4 separate regions of the Homo sapiens genome follow, and regions 2, 3 and 4 are each linked to region 1. Evidence: fine-mapped expression QTL. A gene starts in region 1. Each other region holds a variant in brackets. All regions are shown on one strand. Distances are between the middles of the regions.

Region 1 (5,616 bases):
CTGAGGTGCAAGGCCATGGCCATGGGTGAAGCTGGCCCCAAAACCTTTCCTTTTTCCCCTCAGAGAAGTTGGAAGGTTTGTCTCCCAATGATTTTGCCACATGGTTTTTCAACACCCAGAGCCTTTGCCAGTTTCCCGGTGAGATTTGTTTATCTCCATTCTGGAGTCTTAATGTTCAAAACAAACTTCCAGACAAAGGGATCCTCTGCTCTGTGGTTCTCAGCTCCATTCTCCTGCAAGGACAGAGTCAACAACACCGATCCCCTGATGACTTTCACAGCCATGTCCACAGAGAATCCCACCCCCAGCTTCCTCCTGCGTCTTTCCCGCTGCCTCTGATTGTTGTGGACATCCTCAAGGGCATAGCTTGTATAGCTTATTTTAGCCCCTTTTTTCCTATCCTTATAAACTATGCAGAGAAAATAAGATTGTTCCCCCGGCAGATGTTATTTGGGCCTTAAAAAGTGGCCCAAGACCCAGTGATCTCTTCTAAGAGGTGAAGTCATCAGCATCTAGCTGGATACATTATCGAAAAGAACCCCAGACAAGAAGAATTCATCAATTAATCTCATTAATTGATGAATAATTAATTCATTAATTCATCAATTAATTTATCAATTAATTAATCACCTGAAAATTTTCAGGCATATTTTCGTGGCCACCACTCTGTGGAAAAGCCCAACAGATTTCCATAAGTAGAAAATGACAGCATTGTCACTGAGGGCAGGTATAAGTGAGGGGTGATATTAATAATTAGTATGCAACCAGCCTTTATTTGTCATGCATTACACTAAGTCCTTTAATATATACGACAATCCAAAAGGTAGGCACTGTGGTTGTACCCTTGTACAGATGAAAACTTTGAGGCTTATAGAGGCTAAGTATCTTCCCCAAAGTGAGACAGCTAGAAAGTGATGAAGCTGAGATTAAAAGTCAGGAAGGCTGGAAACGGCACCTGGGCTCTTCCCCAGGCCACCATCGGGTTTAGCTAATTTATATTTTGCTTAGTTAATTGTCTCCCCGCTGTCCCAGGATTGGATTTATGCTTATGAGGTTGGAGTTCTTTTTATTTCTTTATTTTTTATTTTTTCTGCAATCATCCATTATTGGGTAGAGCTCTTGTCTGTCCTGTTCTCCACGGTATCCCCAGAAGCCAGCACTGGGGCTACCACAAAGCATACCCTCGATAAATAATTGCTGAGTGAATGAACTAATGAATGAATATCATGCTTTCATTTGACTATTTCTTATAATTTGAAATTTTCTGAACATTGAGGCCTTGGGTGATAACTAAATATGCTCATGGAATAGAACAGTTAATTTTACATGTCTAATTTATCTGAACTTTCTCCCAGAAAAATGTTTTTCCAAGCATTAGAATCTAGCAAGTTACCTGCAACTTGGAAACTGAACAAGGAATCCCATCTGAAAATGTAGAGGACACATAAAGTGGAATAATTTAAATATTTACTAATCACTTACGTTTTCAAAGCTATTTTAGGCCTCTACCCTTTTCAAAGAGCTGTCTATGAATCACCTGGGATGCTTGTTTCAAATGCTGAGCAAGGGAGTCCAGGGCCTGGGAATCTGCATTTTTGGAGGTATCTCAGGCGTTTGTTATCGACACAAAATTTTAAGAACGACCGTGAGGACATTAGGGCTATTTTTACCTCCACCCCATTGGACAAAATTCTTTTTTAAAAAATTATTATTATACTTTAAGTTCTAGGGTACATGTGCACAACGTGCAGGTTTGTTACCTAGGTATACATGTGCCATGTTGGTTTGCTGCACCCATCAACTCATCATTTACATTAGGTATTTCTCCTAATGCTATCCCTCCCCCAGTCCCCTATCCCACAACAAGCCCCAGTGTGTGATGTTCCCCTCCCTGTGTCCATGTGCTCTTATTGTTCAACTCCCACTTATGAGTGAGAACATGTGGACAAAATTCTTAACAATCTATCAAATGTGTTTCAAATCTATTGATCCTTAGGTTTATCCAAAGATTCTTTAATCCTGATCACCTCTCGGGGTCATGAGCCATATCCTTTTTTTCCTCCCTGTGTAAGGTAGAAACGTTGTATTTATCTAAAAGCATTGTATAAAAACATCGTATTTGTCTTTCCCCAATTTTAATAGGGCAGCTATCTAATCTCACACTGATATCCCAGACTTTAGTGCACTGAGCCACTCTCACACAGGATCAAGCTAGAAGTGAGAAGATCTGGTCCGATTCTGCCACAAGATGCTGTGTGTCTTAGGGCACGTTGCCCAGCCTCTCTGACACCCTGTTTCCTTGTCTAAGCTGGGGCTGTGAGTGTTCACAGCCTTTTGAGTCTGCACATGCTCTAATTGAAGTCATGCTATAGACAAGGATCATGTGCCCTCACAGTCTTGTTTTTCAGCACTCAAAAGTCATGCTTCTATGATCATGAATTAGGTTCAGAAAGTGACAGAGTAAGTAGTCACAGGAATGTAAAGAGCCCTACCCCACTGAATCAATTGTGACTAAAACACTTTGGAATATAAACTTCTACAATACACACGTATAAGACATAATTACAAAAAAAAAAAAAAAAACAACAACAACTTGGGGGAAGAGTTAGTTGACCATATGAAAACTAGGGTGGACCTGTGAGGCCACATACCTGCTGTTCTCCTCAGACGGGGAAGTGTTTCAGGGTGGGGCGCCTAGGCAGTCTACTCTTAGGGCTGTGTAATATTAAACCCAGAAAATGTCTGGGTTGCTCTGTCAACAAATATTTATTGGTAGCCACTATATGCCGGGCCCTGTGCTAGGTATTGGGGGCCTGTAGGTGAACCCTACGGACAGACCCATTCTTTCACGGAGCTAACATTCTCGTGGGGAAAAGAGGTAATAAACAATTCTAATGATGAATCAGCGATAGAGGATAAAGGGAATCTGTGAGGGAAGAGGGGACATAAACGCTGGGAGGCTGGAAGAGCCCCTTACGTGTTATCCACTTGTCCAGACGCCATATTCATAGTTGAGAAAGATGAGGCAGAGACGGTAGTGACCGGCTTGAGCCTAGACTGCGCCAAGCTTGCCAGAGCAGAGCCGGGTGGAAACTGTCTTCCTGCAAAGCCAGGTTTTCCTTCACGGCCCCTCCTAATGATGTTTCTTTTCCTATCATTGTCGAGCCCTTAGAACCCCAGGATCGAGGGAGGGAAAACAAGCGCTCAAGCACTCCCTCGTTGGTCCCAGGACACAAGGCCTCGTCCATCTCACAAGGCCTCGTCCATCTCCCATCACACCCTAGGGCCCAGGCAGAAGCCCGGCGGGGCGGGGCCTCGGACACGCGCCGGTGCGTCCAGCAGGTGGCAGCAGCGAGCGGCCGCGCCCCCTGCGCTGCCAACCCGCGAGCCCGCATCATGGATGTCGAGCTCCCCTATTTCGCATTGCTAGCCCTGGAATTCGAGACCCCAGACGAGGACCAGGATTCATGAAATCAGTCGCAGGGGCCGGGGCAGGGGCCTCTGGCTCCCGACACTGGCCGAGAGGTGGGTTCCGGGGCGGGTCGCTGCTCCTTGAAGCCGGGCGGGGACGCGCTGCCCCCGCCCTGCCTCCCTGTGGTCCACACCCCCTTTGGGCTCCGGAGCCGCTGGGCAGGAATAGTCCGGGGTGCGCGCGAGCAGGCGCTGCCAACCCCACTTCTGCCCGGGATTCCAATCTGAGGAGCAGGAGGACCGGGGCGCCGGTGTCCTGCCGCCTCCTTCTCCTTGCTCTCACCTGCGCCTATTAGTCCACGCGCCTTCAAGGCCAGGGGCTACAGCCCAGACAGAGAGGGGACAGCAGAGGGAGAGAGAGCACCTGAGGATACAGAGCTGGCACTGGACTGCCTTTTCACCCCCCAGGTGATGAGTGAGGTTCGAAGAACGGAAGATTTAAAAAGCAGCCGGGGCCTCCGTATTGAATGAAAGACCCAGTGCAAAGACATCACCATGAACACTAGCAGTAAGTGGATCCTCCTCTCCTTTGCCATGGGAACAGGGGTGGGGGCGGGAGGTGAGGGAGCCTGCGCTCGGGCTGCCTGGAAAGAGGAAGGAAGCCTGGCATCTCTGGACACATGACCCCCAGGCTCTTTTTTGGTGCTTTCCGTGCTCCTTGGCAGAGGGATAGCTTCATGACTCTGGCTTTTCGTGATAATTTTGCCAATATTTTATCAGCGGCGCCGGCCGCCTCTCCTGGGAAGGCTGCTCGTCTCCTTCTAGCACTGCCTGGGAAGGCCTAGGAAGCAGTGTGTGGCCATTGTCTGACTGTGGGGGCTCTGAGGAGAACTCCCTGCACACATCTGGAAAACCATGGAGGGCCCTGCCTGTCCCAGAGGTGGGAAGAGCAGGGAGGCTGGCCTGTGGGCAGGCGGGAGGGTAGGTGGGTGTGGGCAGGCAGTGGGCTGGGAAGCCGCAGTTTGATAAACAAATAATCGCCAAGCCACCTTTGGGTCTGGAGATTGTGAAAGATCCAGCTCCCGAGTGCCTGCAGCCCGGTGGGCCCAGGGCTGGTTTCTCTATGTACCTGCAGGCTGGTTAGCTATCCTTGAGAACAAGAAGACAGGAACAGCCCTTTGGCCAAGGGCTCTAACATGCCAGAGGCAACAACTGCTTGCAGAGCCAGGACCAGATATTTTGCTGCCAGGTAGGGCCTCAGCTACTGAGAATGCAGTCCGAAATTCAAGAAGGCACAGTCTGTTTCTCTTCAATGTAGCGCTGTGACCTGGGAGGGCATATCTTGGTTCCAGACTCACTCTCCTGCCCTCTTGTCAGCTTGGCCTGTCTAGGTTATTCCAGCATCGCATAGGGCTGTTGAACCAGAGAACCCCTATGAACAGTCACTTCCCTGGGTCTATGACTTTGTTATCAGTCCCCTCTCTGCATCTCAGACTGCTCATCTGTATGATGAGAGGGGTTGAATTAGAAAGCCTTCTAATCGGCCAGGCACCGTGTTCCATGCCTGTAATCCCAGCACTTTGGGAGGCAGAGGCAGGTGGATCACGAGGTCAGGAGTTCGAGACCAGCCTGACCAACATGATGAAACCCCGTCTCTACTAAAAACACAAAAATTAGCCAGGTGTGGTGGTGTGGGCCTGTAATCCCAGCTACTCAAGAGGCTGAGGCAGGAGAATTGCTTGAACCTGGGAGGCAGAGGTTGCAGTGAGCCGAGATCACACCACTGCACTCCAGCCTGGGCGACAGAGTGAGACTCTGTCTCAAAAAATAATAATAATAATAATAAAAGAAAGCCTTCTAATCTAAGAATCTACACTTTTTTTCTTAAAAAGCTAGAGCTGAGCAACAAGGCCAGAACTATCAAGACCTTATTGAAGCTGTATCCAGCCAAAACCTACTATTTCCTCACACACCCCACCCCACCCCCACCTCCTAGCATGGAAGAGAAAAAAAAAAGCAAAAGCTACTGAGATGAAAATAAAATATATTTATTTACTACGTATTTGTATGATTCATCTCTCTGCTGTCTTCCTTTGTGTATTGCATATCTATGCTAAGCTAGCGAGTGTGGCTGGACTCCCTCTGCCTCTTACAGCCAAAGAATTTTGCCTTTTGATTTTGACAGGCTGGAATGGTGTTTTGGCT
Region 2 (5,616 bases), 86 kb after region 1:
TGATAATCAGCCAGTTATATAGAAATGGCCATTCCCATGTTGCAATGCAGTAGTAAGTGCTTGCTGTTGTCAATATTATCAGCATTTTTAAGAATACTTAGCATAAGGTGCAGCATATATACTCAATAAATGGCAGTTATTATTTTTTATATTTAAGCACTATTGTTATAAAGTGTGTGACACAAGGCCTGGTATCGACACTCTATAAATATTAGTTATAATAGTAACAATAGGAATAATAAGAATACTTAGGGCCTGGCACATACTAAGCACTCAATATACTTTAATTACTGTCCCAACTGTTATTATCAGCACCTATTATTTCTCGTGAATTACAAGGCACCTCAGAATTGCCATTTTCCCCTTCTCATCCTGCCCGATATCCTCCATGGTAACCAGCCTCATGGTAACTAAACACTTTTCTCCCTCCAACCTCTTTATTAAGCTTCAGGCCCACTTCATCATGTCAGCTCCAGGCAAGTAGGTCTTTCCCACTTCTCCCGAGGTGCCCTTGTCCCTGGGCACAAGCCCAACCTCCCAGGAGGGTGCGCTGGCAACCAAGCCAGGCTTCTGTTCAGTGACTCCACCTGCATAGCCAGCCTGCCATGTGCTGCAGCCCCCTCGCTCACCCAGGCCCCAGCTCCCTGCTCCCCTCAAGTCTCCCTTTTACTGCTCTCCCCTTACCCAAACTAGATCCTGGCACACAGATTATTTTTGTAGGTGGAGGAGAGGAGACAATAAGAACAACAATACCCAACACTTATATAGTCCCTGACATAGGCGGACACCGTTCTAAGTGCTGGGCATGGATTAACTCATTAATCCTCAAACCAAACCTATGAGGCAGATACTGTTGTCATCCCTGTTTTATAAATAGGGAAACCAAGGCACAGAGAGGCAACTGACTTGCTCTAGACAATGCAGCTAGTAAATGATGTAGCCAGGATTGGAACCCCTTAAGAATATTACATGAAATGATGCACAGAGTGCCTGATACCAGTAAAGATTTACTAACACCCAAGATTATAATGATCACACTGTTGTTATTACAGGGCAGATTCAACAGCAGTGTTCACTCCTCTCTCTGGCCGAGTTTGGCACTTTCAGTAGCAAAGGAGGAACAGAGTGCCTTGGTCTACAGAAGCAATTCACCTGCTGGGAGGAGAGGAGTGGGAAATTTTTTATGTTAATGTAAAATTCTCATAACACAAAATTAACCATTTTAAAGCGCACAATTCGGTAGCTTTTAGTGCATTCACAATGTTGTACAACCCCCACCTCTATCTAGTTCCAAATCATTTTCATCACTTCAAAAGGAAACCTCATACATGCCATTAAGCAGTCATTTCCCATTCCTCTGTCCCCGAACCCCTGGCAGTCACCAATCTGTTTTCTGTCTCTATGGATTTGCCAATTTTGTATAGCTCTTACAGATGGAACCATACAATATATGTTCTTTTGTGACTGGCTTCTCACCCTGAGAATAATGCTTTCTAGGTTCATCCGTATAATAGCAGGTATCAGCAGGTCATTCCTTTTATGGCTGAACAATATTCCATTTTTGGATCTACCACATTTTTTATGTGGATGAAGATTTTTTAAAAAAATTTTTATTTCCATAGGTAATTGGGGAACAGGATGGTGTTTGGAAGTTCTTCAGTGACGTTTTGTGAGATTTTAGTGCACCCATCACCTGAGTGGTATACAATGCACCCAATTTGTAGTCTTTTATCCCCTACCCCTTTCCCAGCCTTTCCCCCTGAGCCCCAAAAGTCCATTGTGTCATTCTTATGCTTTTGCATCCTCATAGCTTAGCTCTCACTTATGAATGAGAACATACAATGTTTGGTTTTCCATTCCCGAGTTACTTTACTTAGAATAATGGCCTCCAATTTCATCTGGGTTGCTGCAAATGCCATTATTTTGTTTCCTTTATGGCTGAGTAGTATTCCATCATATATACATATATATATATATATGTATGTATGTATATAATATGTGTGTGTGTGTGTGTGTGTGTGTATATATATATATATATATATATATATATATATATATATATATATCACAGTTTCTTTATCTACTCATTGATTGATGGGCATTTGGGTTGGTTTATGTGCATGGAGATTTTAAAGGAGCAGTTCCAAGGTTCCTCCCAGTCTATTGCCACAAAGATAGTGCTGCTGTCATAAAGGCAGAGGTCTGAGAAACCTCATCCTGCTATGGTGAAAAAAAAATCCAGAGGCCAGGCGCAGTGGCTCACACCTGTAATCCCAGCAGTTTGAAGACTGAGGAGGGTGGATCATGAGGTCAGGATATCGAGACCATCCTGGCTAACATGGTGAAACCCCGTATCTACTAAAAATACAAAAAATTAGCCGAGTGTGGTGGCATGCACCTGTAGTCCCAGCTACTCGGGAGGCTGAGGCAGGAGAATCGCTTGAACCTGGGGGCAGAGGTTGCAGTGAGCCTAGATCACACCACTCCCCTCCAGCCTGGTGATAAAGCGAGACTCCGTCTCAAAACAAAAAAAGAAATCCAGAGAGGAAACCTGCCGTAAGAGAATGCCCTAGCTAGGGTCAAGGCCAAAAACTCCAATGCCCACGTCAAGGAGTGGGAAGGGCTGGGAGTCAGAAAGTAGGGAGGGTCACTGGTGACCTGCAGTATCTAAAAACCTTCAGACTCAGAACTGTTTAAAATCATGCTTACTAAACAGAACCGTCCAATGGACCACTTTCAATCACTGTACTTGTAACCTCTAGAATGCCAACATTCTAGAAGACTATGATACCAACTCCAGCTTTGGCATTAAAAAACAAAAAGCATTGGCCGGGCATGGTGGCTCATCCCTGTAATCCCAGCACTTTGGGAGGCCGAGGCGGGCAGATCACCTGAGGTTGGGAGTTTGAGACCAGCCTGGCCAACACAGAGAAACCCCATCTCTACTAAAAATACAAAATTAGCCGGGTGTTGTAGTGCATGTCTGTAATCCCAGCTACTCAGGAGGCTGAGGCAGGAGAATCACTTGAACCCAGGAGGCAGAGGTTGCAATGAGCCAAGATCGTGCCATTGCACTCCAGCCTGGGCAATAAGAGCGAAACTCCATCT[CAAAAAA/C]AAAAAAAAAAAAAAAAGCCTTGGCAAATTTAACATCAGGGTGTAGCAGAGAGGTGGGTGGCTTCCCCAACATTAAATCAGCCCCAAATGTTACAGGTGTGGAGTGTGCTATAACCAATCAGAGAGATAAGACTGACTGCTGACTCTGCTAACGATTAAAAATGGCCTTAATACCTGGCTGACAGATAGTTTTGGAGATTAACATCTCTATCTCTGAGTCAGCTGATACAGAAATAGCTAATCCTTCACTTCCATAACCTTCATAGTAGGTTTTAACTGCAGAGCCTGGAATTGTGGGTGACAATCTCAGAGGACAGGAGGAAGTGACTCATGGAACCAGGAGTTGAACAAGCAGAAAATGTTGTACTCTTACAAAAAGCTAGAGCTCTGCCTTATAAAATTGGTTTCTTTATCACATAACATTCCAAGAAAATAAATTTAGAGTGTTATCTGGTATTTAGCCCTGTGGTTCTCAAATTATGAGTCATAAAATCACCTGGGGAGCTTGTTAAATCACAGATTCCCAGGTCCCACCTCCAGGGAGTTGGCGTCAGTGGCTTCTGCAGGGGGGCCCAGGAATCTGAATTTTACCAGACTGCAAGACAGGTGATCCACAGGTCACAGTTTGACACACCCCAATATAGTGAATATGTTTGTAGACTCAGTCTGGAGTTGTGGCTGTCTAATCAGAGTCTAGATTGTACTACTTGTCCAAATCTCTGGGCCCAAGTTAGAGAAGCCAACTGCCTAAGATAGAATGCCATGTTTCTTTTGTTTATTTATTCACTCAATGAGTATTTATTGAGAATCTGCAGTTCCTGCAGATATATCTGTAGGTATAACAGACATGAATCCTCTCCTCATAGAATTTACATTCTTATCAGGATAAATGGGTGGGGCAAATAATTATCTTCTCGGTACAGTAAAACCTGTTAAGATGGAAACAGAATCTCTAAGGATTTGGGGGCTGGTAAACATCCCTTAGTGTAAGTACTGTGTGCTGAGTCTCCTTCCTAATATCACTGCTGAGCATTTATATACCCAATGTGTACTTAAACACTTTTAGGGACAAGGGCTTACTGTCAGTTGAATAAGGCCATTCAGTTCTTAGGTGTTAAATGTTCCTTGCCTGAACCTTCTGCCCTTAGTCCTAGTTCTACAAAACAAATGAATGCCTCTTCCTACAGAGAGTCATTAAAATCTGTAAAATCAGCTTTCACCATTCTGTTAAGTCTCTTCTTCAGGGTAAAGACCCAGCCTTAGAATTGCATTTGAGTCCCCTTCCTAGGATAGTCACCATCCTCTCATGGGTGCATTATACCTAGTATCTTTTTGAAAAAAAATACAAAGGTAGGGTCCAATGAGTCATTCACATGCATTTCTTTGTTAAACACACATGGGCCAGGCACTGTTTTTGGCTCTGGGGATAAAGTCCACTGAAGAGAATAACCATCTTCTTCACCATGATGTTATCCTTCTGTTAATGTCACATTGTTGAGCTATTGGCCTAGGGAATAAGCTCAGAAGACCGTTATTTCACAGGGATCTTCATGAACAAATCATCTTTTCTTGCATTCTTTATGTAAGTTTATTGCTAGCTACCAACTAACTTTTTTTAGCCTCTTTTATTTACAGATATACTACCAACTCCTAAATTCTGATTTTTTTCATTTCTAATTATATTTTTTTTCTTGTTTGATCCTCCTCTCCTTGTTTCTTATGTAAATATGCTTTCCGGTATGCAGAGTGCTGAAGTTAATGGCCATTTTTGGCTCAGTTTTATTTCAGAGTGAAATGCCAATGTTATGGGGTTAGAAAGCAAAAGAGACCCTCTAGTCTGACCCCCTCGCTTGACACATTATTTCCTTGTATGAGGACTTCTGCCCTCTTGATCTTTCCTATGTCTCTTTAACTTAAGTTCATGACCTCCTCAGACCTCTGTGTCCATCTCATCCATTTCCTACAGTGACCTGTAACATGTGTTTCCTGCCACAGCCACAGTCATAAACAATTCCTGATAGATTCGGAAGCAACTCAGAGAGGAACCGGAAACGCTCTCTCTAATAACTCCCTAAAGTAAGAATCCCAACACACAGCTTGGTAGTGGACACACCCTGTGATTGCTGGATCAAGCCACAGACTCAGAGTCCCTCTACTGGGCTCTGAGAACCATTGCATTTTACTTTAGAAAGAATTAAACCCAGTTGAATAATAAGGAATACCCAAGTATGTCGGCAGACAAAAATCAAAGATTCTTGTTCCACAAAAGACAAAACTGCCCGTAAAATTAGAAACTTGGAGATGAAAATAATCTTCAAGGCCACCCAAATCCCACCTTATTGTTCTTCAGATGAGGAAACTGGGACCCAGAGAGAGGATGTGTTAGGGGCTGAGCAGAGACAAAAAACACAGGCCTCCTCACTTCAGGCCTCTCTTCTCTTTTTCACTCCGATTTATTGACCTTTCACCACCATCTCATCCCTTAGCTAGTATTCCGGTCCT
Region 3 (5,616 bases), 49 kb before region 1:
CCCCTCTGCCTCATCACGAGGCTGAGAGGCTGAGCAGCTTGTCCAAGGGTGCATTCATCAATTATGAAATTGAAACATAATCTCTGCCCTATGTGCTTTACAGAGTGGCTGTGAGAGGAAATTCAGAAGTATCTTTGGAAGCATTTTGTTAATTTTGAGATGCTGGGGACATCATCAAAATGAAAAACTTTTGTGCCTCAAAGAACACCATCAAGAAACTGAAAAGACAACCCAAGAAGACAAAATTTGCAAATCTTATATCTGATATAATATAGAATATATAAATAAATATATATATACACATATCTATAACATATAAAGAATTCTTACAATTTAAAAATCAAAGTAAAATAAACCAATTTAAAAATAAACAAAAGAACTGAACAAATGTTTCTCCAAAGAAGATATATAAATGGCCAATAAGCTCATGGAAAGATGATTGACATCATTAGTCCTCAGGGAAAGCCAAATCCAAACCACAATGAGATACCACTTTATACCCACTAAGATGGCTACAATCAAAAGGCCAGAAAATAACAAGTATTGGCAAGGATGTGGAGCAATCAGAACCTTAATACAATGGTGGTGGGGATGTATAATGGTGCAGCCACTTTTAAAATCCAGTCTGTTAGTTCTTCATCATTGATATGGTTTGACTCTGTGTCCCCACCCAAAACTCATCTTGAATTGTACTCCCATAATTCCCACGTGTTGTAGGAGGGACCCACTGGGAGATAATTTGAATCATCGTGGTGGATTCTCCCATACTGTTCTTGTGGTAGTGAATAAGTCTCACAAGATCTGATAATTTTATCAGGGGTTTCTGCTTTTTCATCTTCCTCATTTTCTCTTGCTGCCACCACATAAAAAATGTCTTTCCCCTCCTGCCATAATTCTGAGGCCTCCCCAACCATGTGGAGGTGTAAGTCCAATTAAACCTCTTTATCTTCCCAGTCTCTGGTATGTCTTTATCAGCAGCATGAAACAGAGTAATACAGTAAATTGGTACCAGTAGAGTGAGGCATTGCTGAAAAAATACCCAAAAATGTGGAAGCAACTTTGGAACTGGGTAACAGGCAGAGGTTGGAACAGTTTGGAGGGCTCAGAAGAAAACAGGAAAATGTGGGACAGTTTGGAACTTTCTAGAGACTTGTCGAATAGCTTTGACAAAAATACTGATAATGATATGGACAATGAAATCCAGGCTGAGGTGGTCTCAGATGGAGATGAGGAACTTGTTGGGAGCTGGAGCAAAGGTGACTCTTGTTATGTTTTAGCAAAGAGACTGGCAGCATTCTGTCCCTGCTCTAGAGATTTGTGGAACTTTGAACTTCAGAGAGATGATTTAGGGTATCTCGTGGAAGAAATTTCTGAGCAACAAAGCATTCAAGAGGTGACTTGGGTGCTGCTAAAAGCATTCCATTTTAAAAGGGAAGCAGAGCATAAAAATTTGGAAAATTTGCAGCCTGGCAATGTGGTAGAAAAGAAAATCCCATTTTCTGAGGAGAAATTCAAGCTGGCTGCAGATATTTGCATAAGTAACAGGGAGCTGAATGTTAATCCTCAAGATAATGGGGAAAATGTCTCCAGGGTATATCAGAGATCTTTATGACAGCCTCTCCCATCACAGACCTGCAGGTCTAGGAAGAAAAAATGGTTTTGTGGGACAGGGCCAGGGTCCCCATGCTGTGTGCAGCCTAGGGACTTGGGCTCTGTGTTCCAGCCACTGAAAGGGGCCAACACAGAGCTCAGGCCATGGTTTCAGAGGGTGCAAGCCCCAAGCCTTGGCAGCTGCCACGTGGTGTTGAGGCTACGAGTGCATGGAAGTCAAGAATTATGGTTTGGCCTGGATTTCAGAAGATGTATGGAAATGCCTGGATGCCTAGGCAGAAGTTTGCTGCAGAAATAGGGCTCTCATGAGGAACTTTTGCTAGGGCAGTGCAGAAGGGAAATGTGGGGTTAGAGCTCCCACAAAGAGTCTCTACTGGGGCACTGCCTAGTGGAGCTGTGAGAAGAGGGCCCCCATCCTCCAGATCCTAGAATAGTAGATCAACCTACAGCTTGCACCATGTGCCTGGAAAAGACACAGACACTCAACACCAGCCTGTGAAAGCAGCTGGGAGGGAGGCTGTACCCTGCAAAATCACAAGGGTGGAGCTGCCCAAGACCATGGGAACCCACCTCTTGCATCAGCATGACCTGGATGTGAGACCTGAATTCAAAGGAGATCATTTTGGAGCTTTAAAATTTGACTGCCCCACTGGATTTCAGACTTCCATGGGCCCTGTAACTCCTTTGTTTTGGCCCATTTATCTCATTTGGAATGGCTGTATTTACCCAATACCTGTACCCGCGTTGTATCTAGGAAGTAACTAGCTTGCTTTTGATTTTACAGGCTCATTGAGAGAAGGGACTTGCCTTGTCTCAGATGAGACTTTGAACTGTGGACTTTTGAGTTAATGTTGAAATGAGTTAAGACTTTGGGGGACTGTTGGGAAGGCATGATTAGTTTTGAAATGTGAAGACATGAGATTTGGAGGGGCCAGGGGTGGAATGATATGGCTTGGCTCTGTGTCCCCACCCAAATCTCATCTCGAGTTGTACTCCCACAATTCCCATATGTTGTGGGAGGGACCCAGTGGGAGATAATTTGAATCAGAGTGGTGGAGTCCCCCATACTGTTCTCGTGGTAGTGAATCAGTCTCACAAGATCTGATGGTTTTATCAGGGATTTCTACTTTTGCATCTTCCTCATTTTCTCTTGCCACCACCATGTAAAAAGTGCCTTTCGCTTCCTGCCATGATTCTGAGGCCTTCTAGCCATATGGAACTGTAAGTCCAATTAAGTA[T/C]CTATTTCTTTCCAGTCTCGAGTATGCCTTTATCAGTCAACAGCATGAAAATGGACTAATACAGTCATGTTAAACATAAGAGTTATTATTTGATCCAGCAACTCTACTGCTAGTTTTGTATCCCCAAGAAAAATGAAAAGTTATGTTCACACAGAAACTTGCACATGAATGTTTATGGTTACATTATTCATAATAGCCAAAAGGTAGAAACAATCCAAATGCCTGGTAATTAATGAATGAATACAAATGTGGTATATGCATACAATAGAATATTATTCCCCAATAAAAATAAATGAAATACCAATACATGGTACAACATAGATAAACCTTAAAAACATTATGCTAAATGAAAGAAGCCAATTACAAAAGACCACATGCTGCATGTATGATTCTACTTCTTTGAAATGTCCAGAATAGGCAGATCTATACACACAGTAAGTAGTTGCTTGGGGCTGGGAGGTATGGGGGAATTGAAGAGTAATAGCTAAAGGGCACAAGCTTTCTTTATGACATGTCACAAATGTTCTAAAATTGATTGTGATGATGGTTGCACAACTATGTGATTATACTAAAAATCACTGAACTGTACAATTTAAATAGGTGAATTGCGAGGCTTCAAGATGGCTGACTAAAGGCATCTGGTGCTTGCCTCCTCCACAAAGAAGAATCTAAATAGAGTAGAACACTTTGAATATATCATCTAAGAAACTACACTGGAATTCAACTGAGAAATGACAGGAAAATCCAAAGCAAGGAAGCAGAGGGAAGTCAGGCAGTCTGCTTGGCCAGGATTGGCTGGGAGCCTGGAGAGGCTCCACAATGCAGCGAAAGAATGAGTGAGTGATTCCCAGAGATTAACATTTCCACTATAGACTCCTGCATCCTCTGCATGGGAAAGCCCTAGACCCTTGCAGTCTTCAAGACTAATATCAAAAGCTGCCTGAAGATCAAAGGCATTGTTCCAGAAAGAGAGCTCATGCTGGGCCCCACACACCCCAAGCCCTAAGCAGCTACAGCAAAATGCCATATTGAGAGCCCAGCTTCCAAGAGACCACAGACTCCAAGGCAGAAGAGTAAGCCATTAGCAAAACCCCACTGCCCCCCACAATGAAGCCACTGCATATTTTCATGCATCGCAATGACAAACCCCCCTACCCTCAACAGCTGCTTATGGCTGCCACTGCCAGGATTCAAGCATGAGCAAAATGCATACTCCCCAGCCACCTGCATATGGCTCCTGCCACTAAAAGCAACCCTGCCCTTCCCACAAGCCCTGAGCAGGCCTGGAGTGCAGCCACTGCAGTCCCCACCTGAACATTCTGCCTTGGGCCTGGAGATCACCCCACCCCTGCCAACCATAGCCAGCACCTGCAAGCCCCACTAGCAGACCTAAAGGACACAATTGCGTGGCTCACTCCACCACCCAAACCTCCTAGTGCCAGAGCACACAGTGCAGGGACCTGGAGACTGCTTAGTCCAGTCCATCACCATTGGCACTTGAGCCCTTCTCCCAGGGGCCTGAGGTGAGGCTCATTCGGCCTGCCACTGCCACTGCAGTTGATACTCACCCACACATGCTACCAGTGGGCCTAAGGCTCACCCTGCCTCTGCCTACCACAGCTAGTACCTGCAAGTACCCCTGGGAGGACTAAGGACCAGTTTGCCCAGCCTTGCTCTGCTCCCCCACCACCAGTACCAGAGCATGTGGTCCAGAGACCTGGGGACCACCCAGCCCAGTCCACCATTGTTGGCACCTGAGCACTCCTCCTGGAAGCTTGAGTTCAAGCCCACCCAACCTGCCATTACCACCACAGTGGGCACACACCTATAGGCCTACGGACTGGCCCACCCAGCACATCACAGCCACTGTCAACACAAGTACAGACCATGTAGGACCCAGAGATTAGTCCATCTACTGCTACTACAATCATCCATGCCATGACCATTGCCCAGGGGCCTGAAAACCCACCCGCTTGCCTAGCCCAACTCTGCTACTACCAGCACCTGAGAAAGCCACCTGGGGATCCAAGAATTGGACTGCCTGGAACCACTGAAACCAGTGCCAATATATGCCACCCTGGAGCCCAAGGGCAGGCATGCTCAGCCCACTGCTGCCACCACAGAGGTCTGAAGATAGGACCACCTGGCATTGCTGTATCCAGCAAAACTTTGCCACAGTCTCCACTCCACTAACAATTGCACCCTAAGCCACTCAGGAAATCACAGACACCACTGACGATGTTTACAGCTGAAGAAATCATATGGAGACCACACTGCTGCACACATCCAAAATCAATGGCAAAGTGCCCGACCCAACCAACACCATAGATACATCTTCAAAAAAGTACCCTCCCCTATGAAAGCAAATTTCAAAAATTGAAAGAAACAACTGTTACACCAGATGCATAGACATCAATGTAAAAACATATGAAACATGAAAAAGCAAGAGAATATGACACCTCCAAGAGAACACAGTAATTCTCCAGCAATAGAGTTCAGTCAAAAGGAAATCTATGAAATCCCAGATAAAATACTCAAAATAATGATGTTAGAGTAGGAGGGAAAATGGCAGCTAGGAGGAAGGACTAACTTGCAGTTCCTACTTGGATTGGCAGAGCAGCATGTGGAGACTTACACAGTGAATGTTTGCTCCAAGAACCACCAAAAGAACAACCAGGAAAACCAAAATAATTCACAGACCCTTTGAAGGAAGCAGCTTGCTGCTGCAAACTGTGAGAGGAGAAAGTCTGCCTCCAAACACACATCC
Region 4 (5,616 bases), 22 kb after region 1:
GAGACTCCGTCTCAAAAAAAAAAAAAAAGAAGGAAATTACTCAGTAAATATTGATGAATAAATAATTGTGCCAACAAACATGAACTTTGGTTTATAAACTTTGTAACCTACTTGTGCTGATTTGGGACTTTCTGCTTGGAGCCAGGTCTTCCCTAGGGCATGGTGGGTGCCAAAAAATGACCCCAGGTTAAAGTTGGTGTCACTGTAGTGTGCTCACTCAGGAAAAGCTTTTTGTGTCAAGGGACTCAGGAAAGGCTTAGGACATCCTGTGCTTTGGAAGACAGAGACACTTTCTAGTTATGGCTATACTTGATGGCCCATCTGTTGGGCTGTAAGCTGGGGGTTCTGTGTGCACCTCCAGGCTGGGAAGAATCTGAAGTACACACAGGCTAACTGTCTAACATGGGGGAATTGTCCTCCATCTCCAGGGCCCTCCTCATCCCAGGCCCAGCAGTGGGCCCAAGAGCGAGTAGAATGAATGCCCGTGTTCATATCATCTTATTCAGCTCCTTTCCCATCTCTCGGCCAGCCATGGGGCTTCTTAGCCCTAATCCCCTCCCTCTATCTCTTCCCAATAATCAGACCACCTTCTTTCTTGGGTTTTCCGGGTGTGGATGTGGCTGCCCTCACCCAGGCCATTTCTGTCCTTTGAGTTAGTCCCAGGTCCGGAGCCTGTCCTCTAGCCCAGGGCACCTGGGCATCACCCACAGCTCATCTGCCCGCGGGAGCTCTCTGAAACCTTCTGTTTACAGTGGAAAGTGTTTGCTGACCTGGATTGTTTTGGGTCTGTGACATCAGTGCTATGGGAAATGCTCCTTAGCCAGTAGCAAAGTCCACTTGAGGGTACACACTTAGAGAATGATCCGGGAAAGACTTAGGGACTCCGAGCTAGGTGAGAAGTCCACCCTTCCCTCCACCTACTTCCTCCATGGCCAAAATTCTGCCTTCCCTCTCTGCCTGGCTGTCTCTCTTGAAATCTGTATTCTTTTCAGCAGATAATGTCAATAAGCCCTTTATGTGAGTAGGATTTGGAGCTTCTCTGTTTCTCATCTGAAAATCTGCCCTGTGCCAGTGAGTTTGGGCCTCTGGCCCACACGTTAATTATTGTACCAGGATTCCTGGAGTCGACTGGGGACAGAGTGCCTCTTTGGTTAGAAGAGGGGTATTCTGGCAGTATTTCTTTTTTGAGGCATTAATCTAGCTTAGAGAGGCTGAGCAAGTGAAAATCGTTGTGTGTTCCTTTGATATTTTTTCCTTTCCTGTTTGAATGCCACACTTAGCTGGGGTTTGGGAATCAAATGTTAATGAATCTCTTGGGGTTTCTTGAATTTAATTGTAATAGTCATTTTTTCTGCCATTAGTACCAAGGAAAAAAGCCAATATTTTAGGGCACAGAATGGTAGAAAGGGGTCTACTTTGTGTGTGTGTGTGTATGCGTGGGCTGTGTGTGTGTGTGTATGTGTATGTGTGTGTGTGTGCGCCTATAGAGAAAAGAAAGCTTACTGAACTAGGAGTCAGAACACCTGTGTTGAAGTTTGGGCACATTCCCCAATTCCCCAAGCCTCAGTTTGCTCATCTATAAAATAGCCGGAGTGATCCTTGCCTCACCTGATTCGTGGTTGGTGATGATCAAATGAGGCAATGAATGAGAAAGCCTTTGCGTTAGCCTCTGTTTTGCTGGTTATTAAACAGATGCCTTCCTCCCTTGACTGTTCTTTGAGAATAAAGCCAGAAAAGATTTGAATTGCTTTTTTTATTACTTTTGGTTGCTGGCTGTGTTTCTTTCAATCATTAAAATTTAATACAACTCGACACAGAAATTGAGCACAAGACAAACACAGCTTTATTGGGGTTATAGGTAAATGGGGCAAGGTAAAAAGACTCAGTTCATTGTGGGTCTAGTGTCCTCATATACAATTGTCTTAATTTCAAAATATTTCATCCCACTGTTAGGCCATGCATCCCTTCATGTGTTTCAGTATCTCATTCCAAAAGCATAGTCTCTACAACTAAATGATGATCAAAAGAGACACAGAATAGTGACCATAGGATAGAGGCTTTGCTTCTTCTCTTTGTGTCTGGAAGGGCGTGAGCAATCCAGACCAGAAAGAAAGAAACCTTTCATCATGCCCGTCAGAGCAGGTGACTCATTTTGGCCGACAGACCCACAATTTCACCTTTCAGTTCCTTTTACAACTCCCAGATGAATGGTGCTGTCACCAGGATTCATCAGTATCTAGATTGGGAAGAACATCCTGTGTGCCCCTCCGTAGGCCTCATTTTTTTGCCAGTCCCCTCACTCAATGCTTTTGACACTTTTCAGCTGCTGCTTAGACAGTTTCTCCTGATGGCTAACCTGACCAGGGCAGTGGGGCATGAGCAGGCAGGACTTCTCCCTGCTGAAAGCCACCTGCCTCAAAATGTGTTTTCTAGGACGCGTAACCCAGCTGAACAGGAAGCATCTCTGGCGTGTCTGTTTTGGAGTGGGAATCTCCCAGTGTGGAGAGGGAGCAGGATGCATTGGAAAAGAAAGGAGGCCAGTGAGGCTGCTTTCTCCTGCCGGAGGGGAGCAGGGTCTGCGACAGGCTGGGCAGGCCAACAGGGGCCAGAACACACAGGGCCTTGTGGACCATGGCCAGGAGTCTGGCTTTATCCCAAGGGTGGAGTGAAGTCATTGAATGGTTTTAAGTTGCCACTGGAGGTGGTGGGAGTCCGGGTTAAGCATCATCAGATTGCATTTTGAATGTATCCCCCTGGCTACTGTGTGTAGAATGAGTGAGGAAAGGAGACCACTCCTTACAACATGTTGGGATCCTCTAAGCAGCAGATGATGGGGCTGGGACTTGGGAAGATAGGGCAGGGCACCTTCTACTCCAGGGCCATTGCATGGTCCTGATTCCCTGACAGCTTTTATATCCTTTATGCTATTTAAAATAATTATTTACAGTCTATCTTAGTTAGCTAGAGCT[G/GC]CATAACAAAATACCACACACGGGGTGGCTTAAACAATAGGAATTTATTTTCTCACAGTTCTGGGTTCTAGAAGTCCAAGATCAAGGTATGGGCAAGGTTGGTTTCTTCTGAGTCCTCTCTCCTTGGCACATAGGTGGGCATCTTCCCCCTGTGAGTTCCCGTGGCTGTCCCTCTGTGCTTGCCTGTGTCCCATCCCCTCTTATAAGGACACCAGTCATATTGGATTAGAGCCTATCCTAATGACCTCAGTTTGACTTAATTTTCTCTTTAAAAACCCTATTGCCAAATAAAGTCATATTCTGAGGTACTGAGGGTAGGGACTTCATCATGTGAATTTGGGGGGTGAGAGAGACAGGGACAGGAGGACCCAATTCAGCCAACATGGAGTCCCTCCTCACATTTTCTCTTCCCCTAATTTCAAGTCTGTGCTTATCCATCACTGTCTGGAGGTGTCTCTGCTTCCTTTGTTGCTGCTTTTAGGGAAGATGGTTTTTCCCCAGGTGAGCCCTTCTTGTTGGTCACACAACAAGTCAACATTTTGTATTTCCAACATACTTTTTTATTGGATTTCCTATAAAGGGTATTTAGATAGTCTTTAATATTTCTATTATTTTTTATTGCCCACCCCCCTAAAGCATGGTAACCATGTTATATGTAGTAAAAGTTGCATAACCATTTGACGGGTTTCATTTGGGTTTTGTTCTTCCACCAGAATGGTGGGCCTGACTGTGTTGTGATTTCCATTACAGCGTTGTTTAGCCACAGAAATCTCCTGTGCTGGTTGTTTCGTGGGAACGAGTGTGTTGCATTTGCCTTCCTTGCGGGCTCAAGAATACCTGTTGTGAGAAACAGCTGTCACATTTATGCTGACCAAAAACTTAACTCCTCAGCTCACCCCATAGGTGTGTCCAAATGTTTGTTGAGTGCCCACAAGAATACTCCAGGGTACAGAGAACTGAGTAGCATCCCTCCTCAAGTAATTTGAAGTCTGATAAAGATATAAAACAAATGAAAAAGTAGGTACATTATAGGTAAACTATGCTGTAGGTCAGTGGTTCTCAAAATATAGTCTCCAGACCCACAGGATGAACATCATCTAGGAACTTGCTGGAAATGCACAGTTTCAGTCCTTACCCTGGACCCCCTGAGTCAAAAACCCTGGGTCATGTGTTATAACAAGACATCCAAGGATTCTGATGCATACTCGTTTGAGAATGCATCAGGATTGAGAATGCATCCGTTTGAGAACCACTGCTTACCCATAAGAAGCGCATGACATGAGATTTTTAAAGAAAGCTCATATTTGGAGAGGGAGGAGGGGAGAAGCAGGAAGTATTTCTAGAAGTATGTTGCATATGAGATAGGCCTTGAGGAGTGGGTAGGATTTTTATATTTATATGTAGATGATCATATTTACTGTAATTGCCATCTGTATGTTTATGTATTTCTTTTACAAAAGTAATTAACAGCCTGGACTCTAACTTGAAAGATCTGCTAGCTGTCCCTTTCTTGCATTTTAACTGGCTCACTGTGAATCGAGGCTTCCATCAACATATGCTCAGTTGTAGAACTGGTAATTATGGTTGGAGGCTTTTTGTTGGAGGACACATTTCATTCCAAACATAGTTTCTGAACATAGCTTGAATTGAAAGTAGAGATTCTACCTCTATATACTTAAGACAAAATCAATTCAAAGCATCCTTGAATCTCACAGTGGGAAGGGGCCTTCAAGGTCATCTAGTCTAATAACCCAGGCAAATAACCTCTGAGCAGGCTTTGTAAAATAGGTATAATCAGTTCTTCTCTAGCCCACTGAATGATTCTGTATACTTCTCTAGCCCATTGAATGATTCTGTAGCAAGAGTGGATAAACTATGGCTCAAGGGTCAATTCTGACACACTACCTGTCTTTGTATATAAATTTTTATTGGAACACATTTTTGGGAATACATTTATGCATTGAATTGAATACATTTATGTATACATTTTATTGGAATACATTTATGTATTGTTTTTGGTTGTTCTTGCACTATAATAGTGCAAACCTTTAATCTCCTCTTTAAGACTTTGTATTAGTAAGAACTCTTAGAGTACAAGTAACCAAAACCCAGTTCCAACTAGCTCAAGTGAAACAGGAATCTATTGGCTCCTAAGCCTTTGAAGTCAAAAGAAGATCTCCCTGAAGTAGCTGTTCACTTGATATCATGCATGTGGTTCCAAATGGATTGTCTTTTGTATGTACGCTGCCCTAGTCATGTCTACTGCACCTCCTGGAAAGACCTTTCTCCCTGCTCACTCATTCTGATTACTTCTCCTCCCTTCACTACTCATGTTTATTTCATTCCATTCCATCCACTCCTCTAAGTGCAGATCTTTCTTCTGCTGTGGTGGCATCAGCAGCTGTCCTGTGAACACTAGGCTGAGAGTCACAAGTACCGGGTGCTAGTCCTGACTATGCTATTGAATAACAAAAATATGAGATATGATGTTAAGATACTTTGAAAATCAAAAACCCCTCAAAGGGTTGCTTTTATTTGCTTAGAATCTAAGCATATTTAACCTGGCAATGGCACCAAAGTTTATTTTGTCCTCATGGCCTGGGTGAGAAAATGATCCATAAATGTGTTTTAGTTGGCTCACATAGTA

Direction of the effects. Alleles are on the strand shown, and positions count from the first base shown. SD is a standard deviation of normalised expression in the study named. Not every link is listed here.
For the expression in prefrontal cortex of the gene that starts at base 3,364 in region 1, allele C in region 2 goes with a lower level than allele CAAAAAA (moderate effect, 0.44 SD a copy in BrainSeq).
For the expression in whole blood of the gene that starts at base 3,364 in region 1, allele C in region 3 goes with a lower level than allele T (small effect, 0.37 SD a copy in GTEx).

What was found. PIP is the estimated chance that this variant, and not a neighbour inherited with it, causes the effect.
Region 2: its variant is the best candidate, but not a certain one, in a credible set for the expression of ABLIM3 in prefrontal cortex (BrainSeq, PIP 0.79).
Region 3: its variant is the best candidate, but not a certain one, in a credible set for the expression of ABLIM3 in whole blood (GTEx, PIP 0.53).
Region 4: its variant is the best candidate, but not a certain one, in a credible set for the expression of ABLIM3 in whole blood (INTERVAL, PIP 0.57).

What each region holds. Positions count from the first base shown.
Region 1 is chr5:149,138,130-149,143,745 of GRCh38, forward strand. It overlaps ABLIM3 (actin binding LIM protein family member 3), which reads left to right and starts at 3,364. Exons shown (of 24, transcript NM_014945.5): 1 at 3,364-3,525; 2 at 3,880-3,979. The coding sequence starts at 3,967. It overlaps LOC124901102 (a long non-coding RNA gene), which reads left to right and starts at 3,987. Exons shown (of 2, transcript XR_007058988.1): 1 at 3,987-4,660; 2 at 5,304-5,469. RefSeq lists a silencer at 3,230-3,479 and enhancers at 3,785-4,286, 4,287-4,786.
Region 2 is chr5:149,223,962-149,229,577 of GRCh38, forward strand. The region is part of intron 8 of ABLIM3 (actin binding LIM protein family member 3); the gene reads left to right. Among named protein-coding and RNA genes, the nearest start is that of AFAP1L1, 45 kb to the right of the region's middle. The variant CAAAAAA/C (reference allele first, on the strand shown) is at 3,109.
Region 3 is chr5:149,089,191-149,094,806 of GRCh38, forward strand. The region is part of intron 2 of SH3TC2-DT (SH3TC2 divergent transcript); the gene reads left to right. Among named protein-coding and RNA genes, the nearest start is that of SH3TC2-DT, 29 kb to the left of the region's middle. The variant T/C (reference allele first, on the strand shown) is at 2,850.
Region 4 is chr5:149,160,449-149,166,064 of GRCh38, forward strand. All of the region lies in intron 2 of ABLIM3 (actin binding LIM protein family member 3), which reads left to right. Among named protein-coding and RNA genes, the nearest start is that of ABLIM3, 22 kb to the left of the region's middle. The variant G/GC (reference allele first, on the strand shown) is at 2,970.